Linked DNA regions of Homo sapiens. The protein of the gene in region 4 interacts with the protein of the main gene of each other region in a pairwise test. Each region holds a gene or a part of one and is shown on either strand. Other genes may lie near its edges. The genes, in order: IQUB, USP54, GEM and PRDM6.

Region 1 (7,029 bases), on a different chromosome or scaffold from region 4:
ATTATGATCAGGAAAATAAATAACCTGAATATATGCTTAATAATATAAGACTTTGAGTTTGCAAAACAGAAATCCTGACTTGACTAAAATACACTTTTCATTTGACGGAGACCTTTAGTTAAGGAAAGATTAGTTTTAGCATTCAACATAACTAAATACCCAGCATTATGTTTTACGGTTTTTTTCAACAATGATTTATGTGTCGTGTTTGGTGTTGCCTCCAAGCAGTACCTAGGATAGCTGATGCTTTTACTTTGAGTCTTTTTCTTTAGTTGGAACATTAATTGCAAGCTTTTGGTTGGTAATCATTTTTTATGGGATGTATTTACTATATGGTCCTCACGGAGACACATTGTTATCTGGAGAACCACAGTTTGGAAAATACATTTCTCTTTATTATAAAGTTTTTTGTTTTATATATATAATGCCACAGTGTGATAGGATACAAAGACTATGCATTAGGGCTTTGGAGTCTTAATTGTTCTTTGTGTTTTTCTTTTTTTCCAATTTGATTATGGATCCGAACCTAATGCACTCTGTGATCTTAAGCAAGTTTCTTGACAGTTCCAGTTTTCCTATCTACAGAGACAAGAAGATCTACCTCAGAGTCATTGTAAGGATTAAATAAATTTGTAAAGCTCTCAAAGAGCAGCCTAATCCCAGCATTTTGGGTGGCCGAGGCGGGCGGAGCACCTGAGGTCAGGAGTTTGAGACCAGCCTGGCCAACATGGTGAAACCCCGTCTCTGCTAAAAATACAAAAATTGGCCAGGCATGGTGGGGGGTGCCTATAATCTGAGCTACTGGGGAGGCTGAGGCAGGAGAATTGCTTGAATCTGGGAGGTGGAGTTTGCAGTAAGCCAAGATCGCGCCACTTCACTCCAGCCTGGGCAAAAAGAGTGAAACTCCATCTCAAAAAAAAAAAAAAAAAAAAATCAAAGAGCAAAAAGGTAAAAAGTTTGTGCAGAGTAAAAAATGGGTAGAAATGGATTACAGGGAAGCTTATAGTGAGAACAAACCATAAATAAAATTGACATTGTGAACACCAGCCTTAGATTTTTTTTCCCTGAAAATTAAAAAGTGCTTTTTTAAATTTTTTTATTTTTTGAGTTGGAGGGTTTTTTGGTGTTGTTGTTGTTGTTTGTTGTTGTTTTGTTTTTGGTTTTTTGTTTTTTTTCAGAGTCTCCCTCTGTCGCCAGGCTGGAGTGCAGTGGCGCTATCTCAGCTCACTGCAACCTCCGCCTTCCAGGTTGAAGCGATTCTCCTGCCTCAGCTTCCCGAGTAGCTGGGACTACAGGTGCCTGCCACCATGCCCGGCTAATTTTTTGTATTTTAGTAGAGACGGGGTTTCACCATGTTGGCCGGGATGGTCTCGATCAGGCGTGAGCCACTGTACCGGTTGAGATGGAGTCTTGCTCTGTTGCCCAGGCTGGAATGCAGTGGCATGATCTCATCTCATTGCAACCTCTGCCTTCCAGGTTCAAGTGATCCGTGTTTCAGCCTCCCCAATAGCTGCGATTGCAGGCTCCTGCCACCACTCCCAGCTGATTTTTGTATTTTGTTTTGTTTTCTTTTTGAGATGGAGTCTGGCTCTGTCGCCAGGCTGGAGTGCAGTGGTGCAATCTTGGCTCACTGCAACCTCCAACTCCCTGGTTCAAGCAATTCTCCTGCCTCAGCCTCCCGAGTAGCTGGGATTACAGGCACATGCCACCACGCCCAGCTAATTTTTGTATTTTTGGTAGACACAGGGTTTTATCATGTTGGCCAGGATGGTCTTGATCTCCTGACCTTGTGATCCGTCTGCTCAGCCTCCCAAAGTGCTGGGATTACAGGCATGAGCCACCGCACCTAGCCTGTTTTTTTTTTTTTTTTTTTTTTTTTTTAAGTAGAGACAGGGTTTCACTATGTTGGCCAGGCTGGCCTCCCAACTCCTGACCTCAAGATCCGCCCACTTTAGACTCCCAAAGCGCTGGGATTACAGGCATGAGCCACTGCATCCAGCAGAAAATTTAAAAATTAATATAGATTATTGTTTATATATAATTGCATGCATTTAAAAGTTCGATCTTTAACATAACTTTAAAAACTGATTCTTAAAAAATAAATTATCCTATTAAAACAAAAAAAAAACACTAGAGACAGCTTAAATGTCCATCAATGAACAACAGTTGACTACCATGTGGCTTAGCCTTGCAAAGAAGTTACTGTGAAGTTGTTGAAAAGAATGCGGCAGAATCGTATTTTACATAAAAATAAATGTTAAGCACGTATTATAAAAAGTCATAAAATAGTATTAAAGTTTAAAAATAAACAGAAATATAGTTTATGAAAGACATTGATATGATCATAAACAAATTTAAATGTATATATATTATATAATTGTAGCTTTATAGACAATTCCTGGAAAGATAAACTGCCTAACAATGAGAAATAAAATTAGCATGTCTGAAATACTTTTACTTCTTATTTTATCCCCTTCTATTCTGTTAGTTTTTTTTCTAGTAAGCACATATTACTCTCTTAAAAACAACAACAAAATGAATGATAACAATAATGAAAAAATGATTTTGAAAAGTCTTTTCCAACTGTAGCTTTCCAAACTGGGTTGGAAGATCACATTTTACATTTCACACTTTTAATATGTGTACTTTGTTATTTACATTTAATATTTGCTGCAGTGAGAGTTTACACATATGTATGCAAGTAGAGCATATTAATATGTACATATGAGGGGGTATTAGGAACCAATAAAATTAGCTCCTTGTTCTAGATGGGTGAAAAAAAATCTGCTGAATATTTTTTACTCTATTTTAAATCATAGTCATGTTTGTCACTTAAGAATAAAAGACATTCTCTGATAATATATCTGATGGCAAAATTGTTAGTTAAATTCTGGATCTGACTACCACTAACCTACCATGAGGCATTCCTGGGTCTTAGCTTTTTCATCTGCAGGGAGATCAGTTTCTAGACTTTTTCTTCATCACCAGGACCCCTTTTCTGTTCTCCTCCCAATCCCCCATGGACTCCTACACTGAGATACAGCACAGTTAAGTGGTTAAGGGCATGGGTTCTGGATCCAGACTGCCTGGATTTGGATCCCAGATATACTGCCTACTAGCTCTGGGTTCTTGAAAATATTGCTTAACCTCTCTGTGCTAATTTCTTTATCTGTAAAATGGGCATAATGATATCATCTGTGAGAATTAAATAATTTGGTATAAGTATTTGCTAATATTATGCTTTATTTTAAAAGTATTTTTTTCGGGGAGGAGTCAAGATGTCCAAATAGGAATAGCTCTGGTCAACAGCTCCCAGCGTGAGCGACGCAGAAGACGGGTGATTTCTGCATTTCCATCTGAGGTACAGGGTTCATCTCACTAGGGAGTGCCAGACAGTGGGCGCAGGTCAGTGGGTGCGTGCACCGTGCGCGAGCCGAAGCAGGGCGAGGCATTGCCTCACTTGGGAAGCGCAAGGGGTCAGGGAGTTCCCTTTCCTAGTCAAAGAAAGTGGTGACAGACGGCACCTGGAAAATCGGGTCACTCCCACCCGAATACTGCGCTTTTCCGACAGGCTTAAAAAACGGCGGACCAGGAGATTATATCCCCCACCCGGCTCGGAGGGTCCTACGCCCACGGAGTCTCGCTAATTGCTAGCACAGCAGTCTGAGATCAAACTGCAAGGCGGCAGCGAGGCTGGGGGAGGGGCGCCCGCCATTGCTCAGGCTTGCTTAGGTAAACAAAGCAGCTGGGAAGCTCCAACTGGGTGGAGCCCACCACAGCTCAAGGAGGCCTGCCTGCCTCTGTAGGCTCCACCTCTGGGGGCAGGGCACAGACAAACAAAAAGACAGCAGTAAACTCTGCAGACTTAAATGTCCCTGTCTGACAGCTTTGAAGAGAGCAGTGGTTCTCCCAGCACGCAGCTGGAGATCTGAGAACGGGCAGACTGCCTCCTCAAGTGGGTCCCTGGCCCCTGACCCCCGAGCAGCCTAACTGGGAGGCACCCCCCAGCAGGGGCAGACTGACACCTCACACGGCCGGGTGCTCCAACAGACCTGCAGCCGAGGGTCCTGTCTGTTTGAAGGAAAACTAACAAACAGAAAGGACATCCACACCAAAAACCCATCTGTACATCACCATCATCAAAGACCAAAAGTAGATAAAACCACAAAGATGGGGAAAAAACAGAGCAGAAAAACTGGAAACTCTAAAAAGCAGAGTGCCTCTCCTCCTCCAGAGGAACGCAGTTCCTCACCAGCAACAGAACAAAGCTGGATGGAGAATGACTTTGACGAGCTGAGAGAAGAAGGCTTCAGACGATCAAATTACTCCGAGCTACAGGAGGAAATTCAAACCAAAGGCAAAGAAGTTGAAAACTTTGAAAAAAATTTGGAAGAATGTATAACTACAATAACCAATAAAGAAAAGTGCTTAAAGGAGCTGATGGAGCTGAAAACCAAGGCTCGAGAACTACGTGAAGAATGCAGAAGCCTCAGGAGCCGATGTGATCAACTGGAAGGAAGGGTATCAGCGATGGAAGATGAAATGAATGAAATGAAGGCTACAAGCCAGAAGAAAGTGGAGGCCAATATTCAACATTCTTAAAGAAAAGAATTTTCAACCCAGAATTTCATATCCAGCCAAACTAAGCTTCATAAGTGAAGGAGAAATAAAATACTTTACAGACAAGCAAATGCTGAGAGATTTTGTCACCACCAGGCCTGCCCTAAAAGAGCGCCTGAAGAAGCGCTAAACGTGGAAAGGAACAACTGGTACCAGCCGCTGCAAAATCACGCCAAAATGTAAAGACCATCGAGACTAGGAAGAAACTGCATCAACTAATGAGCAAAATAACCAGCTAACATCATAATGACAGGATCAAATTCACACATAACAATATTAACTTTAAATGTAAATGGACTAAATGCTCCAATTAAAAGACACAGACTGGCAAATTGGATAAAGAGTCAAGACCCATCAGTGTGCTGTATTCAGGAAACCCATCTCACGTGCAGAGACACACATAGGCTCAAAATAAAAGGATGGAGGAAGATCTACCAAGCAAATGGAAAACAAAAAAAGGCAGGGGTTGCAATCCTAGTCTCTGATAAAACAGACCTTAAACCAACAAAGATCAAAAGATACAAAGAAGGCCATTACTTAATGGTAAAGGGATCAATTCAACAAGAAGAGCTAACCTAAATATATATGCACCCAATACAGGAGCACCCAGATTCATAAAGCAAGTCCTGAGTGACCTACAAAGAGACTTAGACTCCCACACATTAATAATGGGAGACTTTAACACTCCACTGTCAACATTAGACAGATCAACGAGACAGAAAGTCAACAAAGATACCCAGGAATTGAACTCAGCTCTGCACCAAGTGGACTTAATAGACATCTACAGAACTCTACACCCCAAATCAACAGAATATACATTTTTTTCAGCACCACACCACACCTATTCCAAAATTGACCACATACTTGGAAGTAAAGCTCTCCTCAGCAAATGTAAAAGAACAGAAATTATAACAAACTATCTCTCAGACCACAGTGCAATCAAACTAGAACTCAGGATTAAGAATCTCACTCAAAACCGCTTAACTACATGGAAACTGAACAACATGCTCCTGAATGACTACTGGGTACATAACAAAATGAAGGCAGAAATAAAGATGTTCTTTGAAACCAACGAGAACAAAGACACAACATACCAGCATCTCTGGGATGCATTCAAAGCAGTGTGTAGAGGGAAATTTATAGCACTAAATGCCCACAAGAGAAAGCAGGAAAGATCCAAAATTGACATCCTAACATCACAATTAAAAGAACTAGAAAAGCAAGAGCAAACACTTTCAAAAGCTAGCAGAAGGCAAGAAATAACTAAAATCAGAGCAGAAATGAAGGAAACAGAGACACAAAAAACCCTTCAAAAAATTAATGAATCCAGGAGCTGGTTTTTTGAAAGGATGAACAAAATTGATAGACCGCTAGCAAGACGAATAAAGAAAAAAAGAGAGAAGAATCAAATAGACGCAATAAAAAATGATAAAGGGGATATCACCACCTATCCCACAGAAATACAAACTACCATCAGAGAATACTACAAACACCTCTACGCAAATAAACTAGAAAATCTAGAAGAAATGGATAAATTCCTGGACACATACACTCTCCCAAGACTAAACCAGGAAGAAGTTGAACCTCTGAATAGACCAATAACAGGAGCTGAAATTGTGGCAATAATCAATAGCTTACCAACCAAAAAGAGTCCAGGACCAGATGGATTCACAGCCGAATTCTACCAGAGGTACAAGGAGGAAATGGTACCATTCCTTCTGAAACTATTCCGATCAATAGAAAAAGAGGGAATCCTCCCTAACTCATTTTATGAGGCCAGCATCATCCTGATACCAAAGCTGGGCAGAGACACAACCAAAAAAGAGAATTTTAGACCAATATCCTTGATGAACATTGATGCAAAAATCTTCAATAAAATACTGGCAAACCGAATCCAGCAGCACATGAAAAAGCTTATCCAACATGATCAAGTGGGCTTCATCCCTGGGATACAAGCCTGGTTCAATATACGCAAATCAATAAATGTAATCCAGCATATAAACAGAACCAAAGACAAAAACCACATGATTATCTCAATAGATGCAGAAAAGGCCTTTGACAAAATTCAACAACACTTCATGCTAAAAACTCTCAATAAATTAGGTATTGATGGGACGTATCTGAAAATAATAAGAGCTATCTATGACAAACCCACAGCCAATATCATACTGAATGGGCCAAAACTGGAAGCATTCCCTTTGAAAACTGGCACAAGACAGGGATGCCCTCTCTCACCACTCCTATTCAACATAGTGTTGGAAGTTCTGGCCAGGGCAATTAGGCAGGAGAAGGAAATAAAGGCTATTCAATTAGGAAAAGAGGAAGTCAAATTGTCCCTGTTTGCAGACGACATGATTGTATATCTAGAAAACCCCATTGTCTCAGCCCAAACTCTCCTTAAGCTGATAA
Region 2 (7,029 bases), on a different chromosome or scaffold from region 4:
GTAATCCCAGCCACTATGGATGGAGGCTGAGACAGGAGAATTGCTTGAGTCTGCGAGGCGGAGGTTGCGGTGAGCCAAGATCACGCCACTGTACTCCAGCCTGGGTGACTGCGAGACTCCGTCTCAAAAAACAAAAACAAAAACAAAAAACAACAACAACAAAGGATACATTTAAGAAAAAAAAAAGGATACACTTTTCCCCATTTTTTATATGGCCTTGGGATTTATGCTATCAATTATAGTTTAATCTCCTGAAATTTTTATAGTAGTTATATGTGTGTGTGTGTTTGCCTGTAAGAGAAAGAGAGATGGGGGAGAGATAATGCATATAGAGGATGGTCAGTCATCATAATCACAGTTACTCTTTATGGAATTCCTGTTTTGTACCTGGCCCTAAGTATTCTGCGTACATTATTTTGTTGCATCCTTTCAGCAGATCACATTTATTATAGGTAGTAAATGGCCTGAATGTGATGGAGCTAGGATTGGAATGTAGATTCATCTTATTCTTCATCATCATTATCCTCACCATAATCATCATCAAAACATTTATTCCACACTTACCACATATTAGGCACTGGGCTAATTATACGTATCTACATTATTTTATTTAATTCTTATAACAATCCTATGAGATAGATGTTATTATTAGTCACATTTTTTCTGATGAAGTACCTAAGAGTTAGTTCAATAACTTGGTCAATATGCCACAGCTGTTAGATGGTGGAGCTGAGACCTGTTCTATTCCACTAACTCTGTGTCCCCAAGTTGTATAATTCACATAATGTTCTCTAGGAATGGGACCCTTTGGATCTCCACTAAAAGCATGTTACCTCCCGAGGTTCTGCAATATTGTTGGCCCTGCAGAGGGTGCACTTTTTGTTTTTTTTGAGATGGAGTCTCGCTCTGTTGCCCAGGCTGGAGTGCAGTGGCGCAGTCTCGGCTCACTGCAAGCTCCGCCTCCCAGGTTCACGCCATTCTCCTGCCTCATCCTCCCGAGTAGCTGGGACCACAGGTGCTCGCCACCACACCCGGCTAATTTTTTTGTGTTTTTTAGTAGAGACGGGGTTTCACCGTGTTAGCCAGGATGGTCTCGATCTCCTGACCTTGTGATCTACTTGCCTCAGCCTCCCAAAGTGCTGGGATTACAGGAGTGAGCCACTGCACCCGGCCTGCAGAGGGTATACTTTTAACCACTATGTTCTTTCTACTACCATGCTGCTTCCTTTAGAAGTCAGTAAATTATACAACTTTAGATCTTTATAAGGAAGGGCTAAGTAGCCTGCAGCTGTCATTTCTTAGTTCTTATAATTTGTCAATTATAACAAAGTGAAACGTGCCTTTTTGTTTTCTTTCCAACTACTTTTTAACAAATTTTAGACAAATTTGTTATACATGACAGTTATCTAAGTTCTTGTGCAGGAAAAATAAGACTTTTTGTCCTTTATCAGCATACAATTCTTCTGTTGTACATGATGTAATAGTTTGAAGCTGCCAAAGTCCAGCCCTCAGGAAATTGTTTGAGTTGAGTAACTATTCGCTGGAGAGTTTAAGATAACCAGCTCATAAATCAACAAATAGCTTGGCCCTTTTTATGGTTGTAGATGCTTATCTCTTTCTATTTTCAAGCTTGAATCAGAAGCAAATATTGTTTCCATTTATATAGTCACTATTAGAAAAAGTTGTCAGCAGTATCTCAAGCTAGATAAGGCCATTTTGTGAGTTCTTTTCTTTAAGGAGAGTCAGAATTTATCAGGATGTTAGAATTGGTTGTTCTAGGCTAGGTACCTTCAAACAAAAAGTTTTCTCTTTCAATGAAACTGTCAGTGATTCAATGCCTATTATATTCAACCTCTGTGTGGAATTAGAAAGATGCCCTTAAGACAAAATGTAGTCCACGTACCCAAATAACTGTAACATGAGGGAGAATGTGAGTATTGTAATCCAAACCCCACCATGCACTGAGAGCACAGAGGAGGATGAAATAAATTGGGAGATTGGAAAGGTGAGAGGGTGAGAGAATGATCTGGGAAGGCTTTTCCTTGTAGGATAGTTAAGATTTTCAGCAAGAATAAATGGAGAGGAAAGGCATTCCAGAGAGAGGCAATATTAGAGTCAAGACAATGAGAAAGTAAAGGACAGGGTATATTTGTTATAAAGAAAGGAGTCTAGTGTACTTGGAGTGGAGGATGAGTGAGAGGCACATAATGGATGATCAATGAAATGTTTGATCAGTGAGTGAATGAGTAGATGAAGCTGGAAATGGTGGTAAGGTCCGGTGATTCTCAAACTTTACGCTGGTGCCAGACATATTTAATTCTATCTTATAATTAGGAATTAATTTTTTTTTTCTTTGAGCTGGAGTCTTGCTCTGTCACCAGGCTAGAGTGCAGTGGTGCGATCTTGGCTCACTGCAACCTCTGCCTCCCGGGTTCAAGATTCTCCTGCCTCAGCCTCCTGGGACTACAGGCACGCGCCACCACGCCCAGCTAATTTTTGTATTTTTAGTAGAGACGGGGTTTCACCATGTTGGCCAGGATGATCTTGATCTCTTGACCTCGTGATCTGCCCACCTCAGCCTCCTAAAATGCTGGGATTACAGGTGTGAGCCACTGTGCCTGGCCAGGAATTAATTTTATTGGCAGAATATGTGAATATCAAAAATATGCAGCATAAAAATCACAATCATGAACATGATTCAGTGATATGATTTGGATGTTTGTTCCCTCAAATCTAATGCTGAAATGTGATCCCCAATGTTGGGGCCTAGTGGAAGGTATTAGATCATGGGGGTGGATCCCTCATGAATAGCTCAGTGATGAGTGAGTTCTCACTCAGTTAATTCACACAAGATCTGGTTGTTTAAGAGAGCCTGAGACCTCTCCCTTGTCTCTCTCGCCATGTGACACCTGGGCTTCCCTTTGCGGTCTGTCATGATCGTAAGCTCCCTGAGGCCTTGCCAGAAGCTGAGCAGATGCTGGTGCCATGCTTCCCATACACAGTGCAGAACCATTAGCTGATTAACTTCTTTTCTTTATAAATTACCCAGCCTTGGGTATTTCTTTATAGCAGTGCAAACATGGCTTAACACTGTCAGTTAGGAAAAAAGGTGTTAAAATAGTTCCAATTGACTGCTTTGATTTTTTTCCCTCTTAATTTTGCTACTATTTGTTCAAGTTTCTGTAGTGCTAGCAGTAGACTAAGTAGGTAAGAAAAAATTATGGTAGAGAAACTTATGAAAAATCCATCTATTAATTTTCTTTCCTGTGAATTAGAAAAATACCATTGTTCTTTTCCAGCCAAAAGAATATCTCCCTCTAGGAGCCATTAAATATTTTGAAAAGGAGTGACATGGTGTGGAATGTGTTTTAGGAGTCAGGTGGTAGTGACATGTAGGATTAGAGGACTGGCAATGAGTCAGTAATGTGGTGCAGTGGTCCAGATGTGGTGAGGATCTGAACCTTAGTAGCAGCAGCAGTGAAAATAGAATGAAAGGAAATAGAGATCCACACCAGGCCCTCTGTTTCTAAATAGGAAATAGTTACCAATTATTAACCAGCTTTCATATTGTTAGGATATTACGGGTCTCAATGGTCGGTTATCTCTGGTCTCAAGTCCTTTCACTCTATTTTTAGGGAAAATGTGTTTAAACCCCTATTTTAAGGAAATGATAGTTTATAGATTATTTATAAATTATAGTTAATTTAGAAAATAGAAAAAAGGAAAAAAATCCATAATTTCATCATCCTAACAAGACCGCTATCATTTTACATTTACTTACCCCGATGTTGCTGAGTTTTAAACTTCTCTGTTAATTCATTCTGCGCACATTTAGCTCTGAGAAACAGGTTTCTGAACTAATAAAACACCCAATAATTGCCATACTGTGATATTAAACAGTAAACCAAGAGGTTTCACATATAACCCTCAGTGGATTGTAGGATCACAAACTACGTCAACGTCTCTTCTTTTTTTTTTGAGACAAAGTCTCACTCCATTGCCAGGCTGGAGTGCAGTGGCGTGATCTTGGCTCACTGCAACCTCCGACTCCCTGGTTCAAGCAATTCTCCTGCCTCAGCCTCCCGAGTAGCTGGGATTACAGGCACATGCCACCACGCCCGGCTAATTTTTGTATTTTTAGTACAGATGGGGTTTCACTATGTTGGCCAGACTGGTCTCGAGCTCCTGACCTCGTGATCTGTCCGCCTCGGCCTCCCAAAGTGTTGGCATTACAGGCGTGAGCCACTGTGCCCGTTCACATCTCTTCTTTTCCTATAAATCAATCTTGGTCCATCTACCTTTAGACATATAAATATTTATTTCCCAAATGCCTCAATCCCTTTTGGGCCCAAAGTTCCATCTTCTTCAGTGAATTATTTGCATAATTTAAAATGTTTTTTATTTTGAATTTATAGAAAAGTTGGAAAAATAGTTACCTCTAATGATACCATCTTATATAACCATAATACATTTATCAGAACCAGGAATTAATAGTATTGGTATAACACTATTAACTAAAGAGCTTTCCTGAATTTCACCAGTTTGCCTACCATTATTATTTTTCCTTTTTTATTTTCAGTTTTTTTAAATTGTAATTTATTTTTTTTTTATTTTTAAAGACAGGGTCTTGCTTTGTCACCCTGGCTGGAGTGCAGTGGCACAGTCATAGCTCACTACAGGCTTGAATTTCCAGGCTCAAAAAGTCCTCCTGCCTCACCCTTCTGAGTAGCTGGGACTACAGGCAAGCATTAGCCTGGCTAATTAAAAAAAATTTTTTTTGGCCAGGTGCAGTGGCTCACGCCTGTAATCCCAGCACTTTGGGAGGCTGAGGCGGGCGGATCACCCGAGGTCAGCAGTTTGAGACCAGCCTGGCCAACATAGTGAAACCCCATCTTTACTGAAAATACAAAAATTAGCTGGGCGTGGTGGCAGGCGCCTGTAATCCCAGCTACTCCAGAGGCTGAGGCAGGAGGATTGCTTGAACCCAGGTGACTGAGGTTGCAGTAAGCCAAGATCGCGCCATTTTACTCCAGCCTGGGTGACAAGTGAGAAACTTTGTTTCAAAAAAAAATTTTCTTTGTTTTGTAGAGACAGGGTTTCGCCATCTTGCACAAGCTGCATTGTTCTTTTTCTGTTCCAGGATCCTATCTGGAATCTCACATTGCATTTTAGGTGTTTTTCTTCCTTACTCTTCTGTATTCTGTAAAAGTTTCTTAGTCTTTCTTTGTCTTTTATAACCTTGACATTTTTGTAGAGTATTGATCAATATCAGTTTGAGGGCTATTTGTCAAATATTCCTTAATTTGGATTTGTCTGATATTTTTCTGATGATTGGACTGAGATTATGGTTTAGGCAAGAATACCACAGAAATAATTGTGTCCTTTTCAGTGCATCATATCATGGCATTCATGATGTCAATATGTATTATTACTGGTTATTTTGACCTTGATCACTTGGTTAAGGTAGTTTCTGCTGGGTTTCTCCATTGTGAAACTACTATATTTTCCTTTGTAGTTAATAAATGCCTTAGTGGAGATACTTTGATACTGTCATTTTTATTAATGTCATGGAGTTCTCTACACATGCAATTAATAGTGTCTCCTTAAAGACTTTATTGAACTTTAGTTACTGTGAAGTCAATTAGCTTAAAGAGTCCATCTCCTTGGATGGGCGCAGTGGTTCACGCCTGTGCCACCGCATGGTTCACAACTTTGGGAGGCCGAGGTGGGTGGATCACTTGAGGCCAGGAGTTCAAGACCAGCCTGGCCAACATGGCGAAACTCTGTCTCTACTAAAAGTACAAAAATAGCCAGGCATGGTGGCGCATGCCTGTAATCCCAGCTACTCGGGAGGCTGAGGTAGGAGAATTGCTTGAACCCGGGAGGTGGAGGTGGCTGTTGCAGTGAGCCAAGATCGCATCACTGCACTCCAGCCTGGGTGACAGAGCGAGACTCTGTCTCAAAAAAAAAAAAAAGTCCTTCTCCTTAGAAACTTCCCACACTTTACACCTGGTTTTATCAAAGGGTTCCCAGGCTTTGCACGAACAAATTCTATCTAGTCTTCATTGATTTCAGTTCCATTCTAGCTCTGCTCATAATGAATCTCTTATGCTAATAACCTGTAGCTCTCTGGGCCTCATTTACCCCTCTGTCTCTTAGGGCGCCAGGCTCCTCCTGGCCCAGTGTCCTTCCAGGCCTCATCTCCCTTTATGCACAAGCCAGTTCCTTTGAATGACTGCTTTGGGTTTTTTCCGAAACAGGCTGAGAGAAGCTGACTTTGTTGGTGAAGAATACAGTGGGGGATAATTAGGGTGGCTGCAGCTGGAGCCTGGTTTATTACTTTGGCCTGAGAAAAATGGTAGCACATTAAGCTGTACTGTGTATACTTGTGAAAGAATCATTCTCTGTATTTCACTAATACAGAGAAAGTGTTTTTTTCTAAAGGTCACCAGCTTCTAGAGGTATGTCTTTAATTCTGGCAACCTTAATCTGTAATGATCTTTTCAATTTAGCCCTGTTGACTGTGGAGTTACTTGCTGTGAGCACAAGAATCCAAAATCCAAATGTGGACCAAATATTATATTTAGATCTATTTAGTTCAAACAAATTTTATACAGTGAATAACATTAGATGTTTCTTTGATTAATAAAATACAAATTTATTAGTATTACTGAATTCAAAGTAGCTTTTTGAATTATGTATTTTCTCAAGTGACATATACTATAAAAGCCCCATTTATGTAATGTGGATGGGGCAGACTTAGATTCTCTGACACTTGAAGCTTATGCAATTCAGAGGGCCTCCTTTAAGGAAAATATTTTTTGAAACAGAAAATGAGATATTGGGCCTTGAGAATCTGTGCAAGAGAAAGAGTCCTGAAGCTTAAGTTTCAGTGGCTTGGTAAATCTGCCTCTGGATGTGAGGCACTGCAAAAAGGTTGAGACCCACTGTTTTCCATCATTTCATACATGGAAAGGTTTTTGGCTTACCCACAGGAGGCTAGTGTTTTCAGATTGGGAACAGTGGGAC
Region 3 (7,029 bases), on a different chromosome or scaffold from region 4:
GTGTATCCTAAAGTACACTTGCTGATAGGAAAAATAGGAAAAAGGAAGAAAATCGCTTCCAACTCCCTAAAAGCATTGGTCTTCTATGCCTATAAGATGTCTGGTGGCTGTAAAGATTGCTAGCCTGTCCAGTATTTATGCCAAAAAGTTTTCACTTTTCAGTATCTTCTACAGCTTGATTTGATAAATTACACAACTTCTCTGCCAAACAGCATTTCCAATTTCTATTTAATCTACCAAAAATGAGCCTTTTCTGACTTCCCAAAAACTCCCTTTTGCCTTTTCCAAGTGATGAGATTAAGAACACTTTTGTGGGACTAGGAGGGTTTTCAATTAACAGAAGTCTAGCACATAGGTTCTGAAGCTTTTTAAAATCTTTAAAAAGCCAATGTTGAAGACTGGTATTGAGAATCTCAACTTCATATGAGATGGATGTATGTTATTTAAAATAACAGTCAATGCCTGTTTGTATTTTCCCTAAAACAAATAAACTTTTTGGGTGTGTTTTTTAATAGAACTAAAGGCAAGTCACTACAACTTGCTTGTTATTCAGAACTCATCTGTGAACGACCTGTTCCTTAGAACAGTCTCATTCTTCAGCAGTATGCTTTTAATCAAGAAAATGAGCCCACCTCATCTGGAACACCTACTATATAGGACAAGGTCACCCTTGCACCAAACAACTTGTTGAAAGGAAAGCCCTAAAGGAATTTAGAGAGCTACAGGCTCTGCATACCTTATTTTCCCACATATCCAGGAGTATAATCGTTGCACTTTCCCCATCAACCATCAGGGTTCGTTCATATGTATCTTCTAGAGAAGAAAGAACAAAGATATTGGAGTCAGGCGAATATGCAACACTTCTCCATAAGAGGGTCAGGTAGAAAATTGTGCTAGAACATAAACTTACTAAATATGCAATTAATTATGTAAGTATACAGATATTTTCAAAGGCAAATTACTATTTTTTGTCACCTTCAACAACATTCTACATATAATTCCTCCAGTCCTTATCCAGCAGAACGTCTCTCTCGAACATGTGTCACTAAACCACATGGAGTAAAAGGCATTTGTTTGCATCATTCCTGGACCTTTTGTATGGCAAAATCATTTGTGAGGATAAACTTACTCAAGAGCTTTTGACTCAGATTCAATGGTTAATGCTATGAGGAAACATTAACCACCCAGTGAAACTGTAAGCCACATTTTCATAAGTCCATTGTACCTTTCAGTGGGTAGTTACTGAATACTCACTAGCAATTTCAGGAGCTTTGGGCTCAGAGACATTGCTCCTCTTCGGACAAGTGCAAGAATGAATCTTGAGACTCTCCCTGTTTTGGCTGTAGTTTTCTTCCTTTTTTTAAAAAAAATGCTGTTCCCTAGGAATAAGTGGGCTTGTTTTTCCATCTTGAGTATAATAGAAATGCAGCCTCCAGCTCTACTTGGTAATGGAAACTTTCCTCCCTGCACTTGAGCCCAGATCTTGTGTAGGTGAAGGGTGAACACAGTACAGTACAATGGGCCAAAGCAGTTCCAGCCTGGAAAATCCATGGGGGGCAGGCGTAGAAAAGGGGTACAGTGGGATTTTTGCAAGTGGGATTTCCCTCATCCCAATACCATTGAGCCCATCCCCACTCTATTTTCACAATGAGGTTTCCTGTTTTGAATTTCATCTTTTGAAAATTATGACTTTCATAATGATTTATCATTTTTCTTCTGTTCTTTTTGTCTAGAATCTTTTCCCTCAAATACCCACAAGGCCTGTTTCCTTACCTCCCTCTGGGGGAGGTGCTTCCTGGCCATCCATTTAAAATTGCAACACTTCTATCCCACAATATTCCTTCTCTGCTTTATGTTTCTCCATCTCACTTATTGCCACCTAACATACAACACATTTAACTTACTTATTCTATTATTTTCTGTCCCTCCTGCCCCTCTCGTAATGTTAGGGCAGACATTTGCATCTATGCTGTTTACTGTGTCCCCCAGCACATTGGTACATTGCTGGTGCACAATAAAGTTTGTACAGTGAACGAATGATAAATATAGCATTGTGGCTGTGAAAACAAGCAAACCTGAATTCAAATCCAGGTGCCATCCCTTATGAACTCTGGGGGTCTACGCAACTTAGGCTCTCTGAGCCTCAGTTTTCTTCATCTGTGCAATGGGATTGATAATAGTACTCACACCTTAGGGCTATGTGACAATTACCTGTATTAAGCCTGGGCACAAAGTAGAAACTCAGTCAGTGTTAGCCATTATCACTTCTTCAGGTGAAGGAAGCTGGTTCTTGCCATACTCAGCACTTCCTCACTACAGATAAATCCTAGCTTAAGAGAGCTACGTTGGAACCAGGGCACTTCTTGTTTTACAATAGCGAGCAGTTTACGAAAAACACTGCTCCTGGTTTAATGCTTCATCATCTAAGAATTGGAATCAGGAGAGGTTTCCCTTCCTTAGAGAAGGAAAACTTGGACAAATAAGAAGAGAGTTAACCAGGCATGGCCCTGTCTTTCTGTGAGTTTCCCCACCTCCCACAGCGTCATTCTTCTAATCAGTAAGTGTTTGCCCTTGGGGAATTAAAACTCTGTCTCGCCCATCGTGTGCCTGCTCACAATATGCAGAAGGAATGAGATCACAGTGGGACTATTTGGATTACCAGGGGTAGAACCTCACAACCTCAACCTGTAAATTAGACAACGCAAGGGAGACTGTCAGAGCCTGAGCAGCACAGAACGGGGATGGCCTGACTGCTGCTTCCCACCACAGGGTTCTTAGCTCTTCTCTAAAACCCCTCCCTGCACTCAGACAACTCCTTCAATGATGGAGGAACTTTCTCAGCCCACCACTCAGGTACAGGGGACTCGCTTGAGTGCCCAGTCATTCAAATAGAAACATACTGTGTTCCAATCGCTGACGGAAAAGGAAAACCCAACTTTCTCCTGGCTTAAGAGATATCAGAACAAGTCTAGAGAAAAAGTGGACTAAGGATCACAGCCATGAAAGTAAAAACATGCTTTCCCGTTCTAGAAGCTTCCTGACAGGATCATTCTGTCTGATCTTACCTTTGCCTGAAAATTACGGTGTTGGAGGCCTGGGAGGCTAAAACAATCCATCTCCTCCCTGCTCAGCACGTGTGCTCCCCACTTTACCCCCCACCCCAGTACATGAGTTTAGATACGGCCTCTGGCTGTGTGCACCAGGACCCTTCCAGCACACATGGCATCCCGACTGAAGGCTCTCCCCTAACCAGGTGCAAGCCTGGGAGTAACCAGAGCTCCAGGTTTCTCTTCATCTAAGTTGCTCAGCTCATCTTTTATCCTTTTCAAGTGCTAATCAGGTGAGAAGAAGGGAAGGAAAAGAATACCAGACTCTAGGAGAGCTCTTTGAAATCTGCTTCCAGTAAAGGTGTGGAGAAAGGTTTGGATACTGATTAGTCTCTGTGAGGCTTTTCCGTAATCTGGGTCTGGAGACACCCCTACTTCTCCAGTGCACTGGAAGAAAGCTGGGGTGTCTGTGCACACTCTATGTAGCAAAAGAACTCATGCTGATGGGGACAGACAGACGTTCTATAAGGGGTGATGGTGGTCAGTAGCCACTTTCTCTAGACCAGTTTGTCTTTCCTCATTTGATCCCCCTGACAGACTCTCTCCCTGACCAAACTTTAGTCAGGCTCCTCTGAATCCTCTTCTCTACCCGGCCTCTCCCTGGGCTTCCGTTTCCATCCTGGCAGAATTCAGCTTTAGCAAGAATCCTGCTAAGTCAGTTTAGTGAGAATCCCCCACCTTCAATATCTGATCAAATTCCTCACCCACCACCTCTGATAGTCTAAGTCCTTGGCCTGACTTCAGCAAGAATCCCCCTAACCTTGACGTCTCCTCTTAGTAATTTTCCATCCTCTGACCCCCTCCCACCTGCTCCTTGGCCTGACTTCAGCAAGAATCCCCCTAACCTTGACGTCTCCTCTTAGTAATTTTCTATCCTCTGACCCCCTCCCACCTGCTCCTTGGCTAAGTGCCCACTTGTTCTTCTTGTACTTGGAATTGAGCCCCATCTCTCCCCACTATTGGGATGCCTACTGCAATGGCCCTGAATAAAGTCTTCCTTACCATGTTAATAATTTTTTCGTTAACACTCCTTGTGCTTGGAAGTGAGGCCCCTTCTGCCCAAGACTGGCTCAAGTGCTGTGTGTGTGTGAAACCCGCCCAAGTGTTCTCTCACTGCCAGAACTGACTCCTGCAGCACCTCTAAAGTTCTGAGACTCCAGCATCCCTCTCCCTGAAAACTTTCAACTGCTTCCAGCTTTCATAGCTCAGGGGATCCCAAGGAACCTCAGAAGAAATGCCTGCTCTACAAATACTGTCCTCTACTCTACTGGCCCCGGTCCCCTCTGGACAGCTCCACGGGCCCCAGCCAACAGTGACCAAAGTGGACAGGGGCCACAAGCAAGGAAACCACCACTTTTGAAAGATAAGCACATCAAAAGGAAATGGTAGATTCAGAATCAGCTCTAACTAATGCTCATTTCGTACTTACTATGTGCCAGGCACCATGCTCCATGCTCAACATGTTATATCCTTTAATCCTCGTAACACCCTATGAAGGAGGTATTACCCCAATTACACTAATGAGGCAGCTTGAGGAGGCTAAGTGGCTTGTCCAAGAGCACCCAGCCAAGTCAGTGTCAGAGCTGCGTCTAAACCCATCATCAAACCCCAAGCCCAATGAGACTTCCGTACTTTGCTATATATGTGTGGTGTGCCTTCCCACCTAGCTCAGGGCTTCCAAATCCTAGTTGTCCCTAGGGTCCAGTTCAGAGACCATCTCTTCCATGAAGCTTTTATTTATTTTATTTATTTTATTTTATTTTTATTTTTATTTTATTTTATTTCATTTTTGAGATGGAGTTTCACTTTTGTTGCCCAGGCTGGAGTGCAATGGTGAGATCTCGACTCACTGCAATCTCCACCTCCCAGATTCAAATGACTCGCCTGCCTCAGCCTCCTCAGTAGCTGGGATTACAGGCACATGCCACCACGCCCGGCTAATTTTTTGTATTTTTAGTAGAGATGGGGTTTTACCATGTTGGCCAGGCTGGTCTTGGACTCCTGACCTCAGGTGATCCACCTGCCTCGGCCTCCCAAAGTGTTGGGATTACAGGCATGAGCCACCATGCCGGGCCAACCATGAAGCTCTTAAATCCACAGTCAGAGGTAATCTTTTCGCCTCGGAATTCCCACAGCACTCTCCTTACACCACTTTCAAGACATTTACCACATCCTATCTCAATTTCTACTTGGTGTATACATTATGCTCCATTGCATACTGTGAGCATCTCCGCAGAAGAAGCCCCATGACTCTTTGCATGTCCCCAGAGTGCCTCACCAAGCTCTGTGCTATACATTCAGTAACTTCTTAGGAATGAATGAATGAATGAATGGCATTCAGTGTATACAGAGAGTCATAAGATTACTGTAGTGTAACTGTAACAATATCCATCTTTATTAGGAGAAATCATTATGAGAATATTATGTCGATTTTTTTTCTTACAGTGAATGCTGATTTAAAAAAAAAAAAATGTAGGGGTGTGCCTTAGAAAACCTTCCTCTTGGGAAACAAAACCAACTAGTGATTCCAGCAGGTCCTACAGATTCTCTGTGTAAGAAGCTAGGGAAAGGATTCCCTTTCTCTCATGATTGAACCCAAATCCTGTGTCTTTTCATGGTCCCCTGCGGCCCCAGGATCAGCCATATGCCTGATGCCCAATGTGCTGTCATATTGGGCATCTCTCTCTCTCTCTCTCAACAAAGAAGTTCCCAAAATATCTGGGAAGGCTACCTTTCCAAATTCCAGGTATGAGTCAGTCTTCTTAACATTTTATGCCTATGGGAATATTACCCTCTGGATACATACAACTCCATTCTAATGGACAAACATTTTTGAAAGTCTACTATCCACTAACTTTTTTCAATTCTTCCCTCTTAAAAACAAAAAACAACTCCCAGTCCATCTCTTCCTTATGTCAACGCCCAAAGCACTGTATCGTTACTGCTTAAAATATTAGTTAATGTGACCCTGCTCTGCAACATAGCAACTAACACTTAGCTCATTACTAGGGGGCATGGTATACCTCATCCATCGCCTTGTATCCCAGAGCTTAGGCCAGAGCCAGGTGTGTGGCTGATGCCCAATGTGCTGTCATACTTAGTATTTGGAAGCTAAATCCTGGGGCTGCAGGGGGCTATGAAAAGACACAGGATTTGGGTTCAATCACAACTAGATTTGAATCCTGGTCATACCATGTACTAGTTTTTTCACCCTGGGAAAGTCACTTGACTTTGTAAGCCTCCATTTCTTCACCTGTCAAATAGGTATATTAATGCCAGATTGATTCAAGTATTATCAAAAATATGTGTGGGAAGTATTTAACACAGTGCCTGGCACATAGCAAGTTCCCCAGAAATGGTAAAATGAACTGAACTAAGATGATAAAATCCCAAATTCTAAATCCACCTTCCTTATTGGGTGATTCTGGATAAGGCTTTTGATCTCCCTGAGACTTAGTTTACTCATGAGTACAAGAACTTTGTGAAGACCAAAATAAACAGCAGCAAATATAAGGCACCTAACAAAGTGCCTCTCCCGTTGCAAACATTCACTCTAAATGCTAGCCCCTTCCTCCCGTTTCTCTTTCCTAGCAAGTCACCTGGCAGCCTTTACAAAGAAAGAGGGAATCAATTGTACAACACTGGCCCTATTTCTCCCTTTACTCTTCTGAGATTCCAGGAGTGAGGAGAGAAATCAATGTTACAACAATGAGTCATTATTTATAGCCCAGTTCCTGAGCTGCCTCATGAGGCAGTGAACTCCTTGACACTGAGACAATCAAGAAGAATAAAACCTCCAGATGAGATGGGCTGTGGGTAGTGAGGAATAACATTAATATGCATCAATGCAGGGGAGAACTGAGTCATCGCTAAGACACCTCCCTACTCTGTGATTCAGTTGTGAGTCGCGACAGAACACAGA
Region 4 (7,029 bases):
AGCCCGCCACACATAGATTGCTCTTCTCAGTTAAACCTTGGCCAATTGATTCCAGCCAATAGTGTGCTGTCAGTACTTTACTTACTGCTCAATCTCACTAACCTGACATTTATGGTGCACTGATTGGCCTCTGTCAGTGGTGCTGGTTGTAAATTCACTTTGAAAAGCTTTGTGTTAACAGCCTTCAACCAGGCTCCAAGAAGAGTACGAACAGGCAGCCTGACAATTGCTCGACCTCCTGCCCTTATTACAGTGAGTAAATCAGGGTTTGAGCCATTAGGCTGGAGCCTGGGGCCTACACAAAAAGGATTGACATGACGAAAGGTCAACCTCTGTCACACATGTGTAACAATTTGGATAATGGAATTCTGTAACTTATTTGAGTGAGGTGGCAAATGCTTACAAGGAAAAGTATATTCTGCTCTGGCTTCTCTGACTTTTATGCTAAGTACTTATACCGAAGTCTGTATTTCCTGTGTAAATATACAAGGAATGTCTGAACTAATGAAATCTTGGGGTATATACGATCCTAAAAAAGAATGAAAGAAAAAGAACGAAGGAGGCAGGCTCATAGTTGTTCTACATATAGGGTTCTTTAGAATAGCAAATGGTTTTTCCCATACTACCAGTGTATTAAATCCATCTTCTGAGACAAGAGGACTTTGATATTGTAGGCATATTCCCCAGCTGAGTAATGTGTAGTTTTTCATATTCAATCACAACAATTTTTAATCCATATTATACTACAACTGTAAGTGATTTCTGGGTAACACAATAGATATTCTCAAATTAAAACTGCTTTAATTTACACAGTGAAATAAGAAGATTCCCCTGCAGGCTTCTTGGGACCAGTGTTATGGTATGACATTTCCATCAGATCACTTGCTGCCAGGCAGTGACTGGGGAGGGCAGGTTTCATTTACCCACTAACCTCTGAGATACTGATTTCTCTTTTTATACCTTACTTTTAAGTCAGTGTGGGAAAAGAAAAAAAAATTACATGGTGTAAGAAAATATGCAGTTATGGACCAGTAAATATTTGTGAATTATTTTCTTCATATTGAGAAAATGCTATTGATAAAAGAAGCAATTTGTAAAAATAGATAAACTGAACTAATGAGAAAAATAATCCGGTGGATACAGAACTCATCAGTCTTTATAAAGTGTTTGCAGCTAAAGCACTGTAGTGTCACATGCATGTTGGGATTAAACCTCACTGATGTGAGAATGTCCAAATGGCTGTTATAATTTTTTTTTAAAGCAGAATTATTCTCGGACTTAGAAAACCAAGGGTGGCACTGTGCAGCATGATACATAAACCAAAAGGACCAGAACTTTAAATGGACATTTTCAAAGCAACTTAAAGTACTAAGTTTTGACTTTTAACACAATGCTGGAAACCATTCCAAGAGGTGGCAGATGGTTTTACAGTTTATGTAAAACTACAAAATGCTCACACTCTATCAAATAGGCACCACTATAAAAGACATCTTCAAATCAAATGAGGCAAAGCCAGAGAGATACACCAGCTGTTACTCTGCATAATTTAAAACATAATAGTAGCATTACTATGGTTTATTTTTAAGGAGAAATTATTTGAATTTCACAAATTTGACATATTCAAAACCAAACTGACAGGCAGACTATTATATTAAATGATAAATTGCTGAAAAACATGATTTTTACTTCAATATAACTGCGACAGCTACATAATTCTATCCCCTAGTGTCTTGGTGAATCACGCCAAAATGAGCCAAAGTCTATAAAGCAGAATATGGAATATATAATTACAGTACTATCACTGCGACAACTTTTAAGTGATTCTAATTTAATTGAAAATGATTAATTTAAAATAATTTTTTCAACATCTAAATACATATAAGTGGGTATAGTACTGTATATATGAAATTGAGTCATTTATAGAAACATACATAATATATTTAAAATATGAAATCAATTCATTTTCTTCTAGAACCAATTACCTATGATGGTTTTGAAATATAAACATTTAGCAATGTGTAATATATTTTTAATATTGGTTTTCATTAATATATTTTGACTTAAGCTAAGCAGTAATGATGAAAAATAGACCATTTGCTTAACAGCAAAACTCTTATTAAATCTAAAATATTATGGCACAAAACCAAATCACAAAAAGGCTCACATTATGTTATCCCCCTTGATTTTCTGAAGAAAAATAATGAAGGTTTCCACATAGTGCAAATGAAAACGAGACACTCAAATTTACTCAGGCAAAGAGAAGACAGGTTCTGTAAAATTAAAGCCCTTTCTAGTATCTTAACTGTATTACTAACAAGTCACTACATTATTTCAATTAGCAGGATAATTTTTCTAGGGTGAAAATAAGTGCAATTTATTTTGTCATTCTTGCTAAAATTTCTTGTCAAGTCAGGCACTGAGTTGAAAGGCCTGAGTAATTCTAGCCTATCTTAAACTGTAACCTTATTTTAAACTTCCGTATTTTATTCCAGTAGAATTTTAAGTATACACTGGGTACATTCCTCAGGTCCAGTCATATTAAATTCTGATGTTAAGCAGAAAGAGGAAACCGTGTGCAACTAGATTAATTTATCTCAAGAGAAAGGGGGCACATTAATAATTGAGATAATGTTTTCATAAATGTTGGAATCAAATGTGCCTTTTCACTTCTTTATTGGAAAACACATTAGGATAAAATTATCTCATTCTCATCAATAAGACCTAATTGCTGAGAAAGATTGTTTTCTTTGGAAAACATTGAGAAAGATTTTATTTCATATGATGTCCAAATAGCTAGAAATGTATCATGCATCCAAGTCTTGGAATAAATATATATAACCAAGGCAAGTCATTGTCTGATGCACCTTGTAATGTTTTGTTTTAAAGTATCTGAATTTATTATTGTTTAAAAAACACATTAAAATTCTGATTCTAAAAGAAACTAGCAAAAATAAATGACTAATTATTTGGCTTTTAGCTTGTAATCTTCTTAAACTATAAAAAATAAAAAATTACCTTGGCTTATTGCAAAAAAAGAAAAAACAACTCTCTTGGAATTTCCCATAAATACCCAGAAGAGTCAAAATGTACTGAATATAATGAAATGATATTTAACTTCCTTTAAATTGCTGTATTTTGAAGAACTATGATTATACACAAAGAAAATATTAACTAAAACAATGATTGCATGCTTACAAACCAAACAAGCTCTCCATGGCTGATGTATGTTAAATAACAAAAAGTCATTTTTCTACAAAGAAAATAGAGCTTCTAATGATTAAATAAAAGGAGTAACTAAGGTGAATCTGATTGTTTCTGTAATAAGCCTTCATGTGTATAATAAAGTACAACCATACTAAAAACAATGAAGTGTAAACTGAAACAAAAATCCATCATCTACTTGGAAATAGTGACAGGAAAAGATTAGCAATCCATTTATTGTACTGAAATAAAGATAAGTAACCCTGGTAAGATCCATCAGGACCTGAGTATTGAACTTGAAATAAAAAGACATTTCTTCATCAGCAAATGACTTGAAAAAATGTGAGGAAGAGAAATGATTACAGTTGCCTTTTAAAATAAAATAATCATGATTCAACTGCTTTTAATTTTTTTAATACATTTTGTTGACTTGCTATTCTGGAAGACATCTAAAAGAATAAGTTTTTGAAATGGATAATTATTACATGAGTCATTAAACAATTATTGCCAAACATTTCCGATAGACCTACAATGTATTCTACTTACTGATTCTAATGTGAATAATATGATGATTTTTTTAAATTTCAGAAGAAAATTTAGCTTTGAAAGAAAGAACTAAAATTTAAGGAACAATCTAACATTTGGAATATTGTATTATAAATGTAACAATTCAAACGGTCATGTTTCATAAAAATAAATCATAATGCTTAAAAATTTTAAACTCATATTCTATATCTTAAAAATCATTATGCTAATAAAAATCTGAAACCTATTTTATAAAGTAAGTATTTTATTTTACAAATGGATATTGGCACTAAGTTACCTGGCCCCAGTTAGTCGCATTTCACGTGATCTCCCAGGAGACTGACACATTTTGTATGGCTAAAGTTTTAAAATCCCTTCAATTCCCAAATGTACCTTATTCTAACTGTTGTTACAGATAATTAAAAAAAATAGATTATGTCCTGAATTTAGGAGTTGGATCCTGTAGATCATCCAAGCATACACCCAGCAAGTCTTTTTTCTAACAGAGAACCAACTCTAAGAACCATCCCAGCACACTCAACTCACATGCCCTGAACAATAGATAAAATTCACTTTATATCTACTGAAGTATCAAGAAAAAGAAAAACACTGACTAAATTCCCCAGTCTCTTTACTACAACAAAATTTTAACTTCATCAAGTACAAGTAAAGGTAGAAAAGAAAGGTTTCATAGTTTTCAGTGTTAATATGCATTGTTATAGTCTATATGTGTAGTGGCCTCCTGCCAACATCCCAATCATTCAAAGCCTTCTGGGGGGGAAAAAACCCACAATGAACTATGAGATTTTTGTTCATGTTTATGTCTTTGTCCCCTGGCACTCTAAAAATAGATAGGCATCAAAGGGCAATATAATAGTGTTCAGTTTTAACATTTTCAGGTAGAGTAAATTTGTACTATTGAACAATTGCTGTACGATTTTCTTAGAAAAATATTGGCAGACCTTTAACTATATGATATTAGAGTTCCTAATAACACTACTGGAACATGAGAAGTACCTAAAAGTGTTTTATAAACTTTAAACCACATTGGAGGTTACAATTAATTAGTCAGAAACAAAAACCAAAATGTTTCCAAACCAGATGCTTTGAGCCGGGGCACTCCAGCAGATAACTATAGGGTAGGTAGTTCATTGGCTTCCACGTCCTCATTTTGGGCTGCTGGGCTGTAGACTCATACACTCAGCTCCTCCTCCATCAAAAGAGGCTTTGCAGACACAGGCCTCAGGACCCCATCCCCAACAGTCACAGGAGGGTTCCGGATACCAGGTCTGTTTTTCATACTGTATCTCCATGGCCTAATATAGTGCTGGCCAGAGTGGGCACTCATCAAAAATTTGAGTGGATTAATGAGTCCCATGAGCTTTATTTAGTGAATATAAGGCAGCTCACAGTGAAAAAGATCATTTTGACAGGCCAGCAAGCCAAGTATGAGAGGCAATCTCTTGCAGAAACGATGCATTAATGGAGCCCAGGGGTTCATGTCAACCTGACCCCTGGCATTTAAGAAACTTTATTTTCTAGCTATTCCTACTTTATTATACCACTTGCCCAGTTAGTCAGATTTACATATTGTTTAAGGGTATGACTTCTGTCATCTTGTATTACATAAGCAACTTTCCATGGATGGAGGTGGCTAAGATTGGTAGGGGGATGACCTAATGATAGGCATCTATCTCTTCAGAAGTGAACCTCAATAATCCACCATGATGTTTTGGGAGAAACCTCAGGCTGACATTTTTCAAATAGGTTATTTTTAAATAATTGCTTCAGGTAAGATTGTGCCATTAAAGTATTACCCTCAATTGGGTTACACCAAAGTGCTCACACTGTTCCCATGTTTTGATTTTCCATATTGATGAAGATTACATAATTTCCGTTCATCAGAGAAGCAGCAGAATTTGCGATTTCTGATTCCCAATATAATTTGCTTAATTTGGGCCCTTTGATTCCCAATATAATTTGCTTACTTTGGGCCCTTTGAAAGTTGTGAAACATGTGATCTCTCACGTTCAACTTTGACAAAATTGTTTTTATCTGAGAAAAGGGGCCAGCCTCTCCTTCCTCCCCTCTATGCTTCTGTTCCTTTCTGCTCACTACACAGAAACACACTGGAAGTGCTTGGAATGGGACATAAAGGTCACCCAGCTCAAACATTCTAATGCCCACCCTCCGCTGCTCCATCTCCTCAGCTGTTTTCTCTTTTTCTCAAAATTCACAGAGACCAACGGTCAAATCCATTCCAGCTGGAATGGAGGCAGCTTAAGGTGACTCTGTCTTCAGACACCTGTAGGCTGTTTCCCTGGCTGGGTTGCTATTGTGTCAGTCCCAGCTCTGTCAGCCTCCTTACTGCAGGTGCTTCAGACACCAGGCATCTACAGGACCAGAGAAATCTATTCTCCGCTACCCTCTGGGGGCCAAGGGAGGCTCTCTTCGCAGTTGCCACAGCCAAAGGCCAGGCTCCCTGCCGGCCAAGGCTCCCTGCTGGCCAAGGCTCCTGCTCGGTGGGGAGGCGCTGTGCAGCCGGCCACTTACCTCCCAGAGATGCTGCGTGTTCCTCACGGCGCCTGCCTGCACCTTCTCTGGGGGCAGAAGCACGCCTTGGAAAGGTCCAATCCAGGTGCCTTGCTGGATCCTCTGCGCCGCGCAGATGCCGTAGGCCAGGCCGGGCACAGTACTGGTGCAGAGGCACACCTCGCGAGGCAGGTCCCGCAGCCACTCCGGCAGCTCCGGCGGGGGCGCGGCGGCCGCAGCGCTGCTGGTGCCCACAAGCCGGCGCAGCGAGTGCAGTGGCCCATGCATAGGGCACTCGCCGTTGCGGTTGTCCGCGCACATGTCGCAACCTGCGGGAGACAAGAAGGAGGAAGGGAAGGGAGCGGGTTAATCCGGCCGCCCCGAGCGGCCCATCTTTGAGTAAACTCCCGAGACAACAGCATCACCGCCCGCCTGGGTAAGCCACCTTCGAGGAAGGTGATGCCTTGGGGGCACCGAAGCAACTCAGAGGAGGAGGAGAAGAGAACCCGCGCCGCTCCCTTGGAATTCGCCGCACCCAGATCTGCCTGGTACCGGGCCAGGACTCTAGGCTCCCCAAAAAGCCTTCGGATCTGGGCGCAGATAGCATGTCCGCTCTCCACGGAACCGACAGTTCCAGGCTTCTTCCTCCCGTTTCAGTCTCTCTGCATCTCTCCCTCTGTCTCTGTCTCTCTCTCTCTCTTCCCTACTGTCTCTCGTTCCTTCTGACCCTCTCGCCCATTCCTGAGGTTTCTATCTGGAGTTTCAGGATGT

Evidence for each region.
Region 1: the proteins of PRDM6 (region 4) and IQUB interact in binary tests that used the Homo sapiens proteins (3 or more experiments, as listed by UniProt).
Region 2: the proteins of PRDM6 (region 4) and USP54 interact in binary tests that used the Homo sapiens proteins (3 or more experiments, as listed by UniProt).
Region 3: the proteins of PRDM6 (region 4) and GEM interact in binary tests that used the Homo sapiens proteins (3 or more experiments, as listed by UniProt).

The regions. Positions count from the first base shown.
Region 1 is NC_000007.14:123,524,577-123,531,605, reverse strand, and holds part of IQUB (IQ motif and ubiquitin-like domain-containing protein), read left to right. Parts: intron 1-3,254; exon of another isoform or gene 3,255-3,361; intron 3,362-7,029. UniProt on the Homo sapiens protein: Adapter protein that anchors the radial spoke 1 (RS1) complex to the A microtubule of outer doublet microtubules in axonemes. The triple radial spokes (RS1, RS2 and RS3) are required to modulate beating of the sperm flagellum.
Region 2 is NC_000010.11:73,581,336-73,588,364, reverse strand, and holds part of USP54 (ubiquitin carboxyl-terminal hydrolase 54), read left to right. Parts: intron 1-7,029.
Region 3 is NC_000008.11:94,252,300-94,259,328, forward strand, and holds part of GEM (GTP-binding protein GEM), read right to left. Parts: intron 814-7,029; coding exon 737-813; intron 1-736. UniProt on the Homo sapiens protein: Could be a regulatory protein, possibly participating in receptor-mediated signal transduction at the plasma membrane. Has guanine nucleotide-binding activity but undetectable intrinsic GTPase activity.
Region 4 is NC_000005.10:123,099,212-123,106,240, reverse strand, and holds part of PRDM6 (putative histone-lysine N-methyltransferase PRDM6), read right to left. Parts: intron 7,015-7,029; exon of another isoform or gene 6,704-7,014; intron 6,588-6,703; coding exon 6,280-6,587; intron 1-6,279. UniProt on the Homo sapiens protein: Putative histone methyltransferase that acts as a transcriptional repressor of smooth muscle gene expression.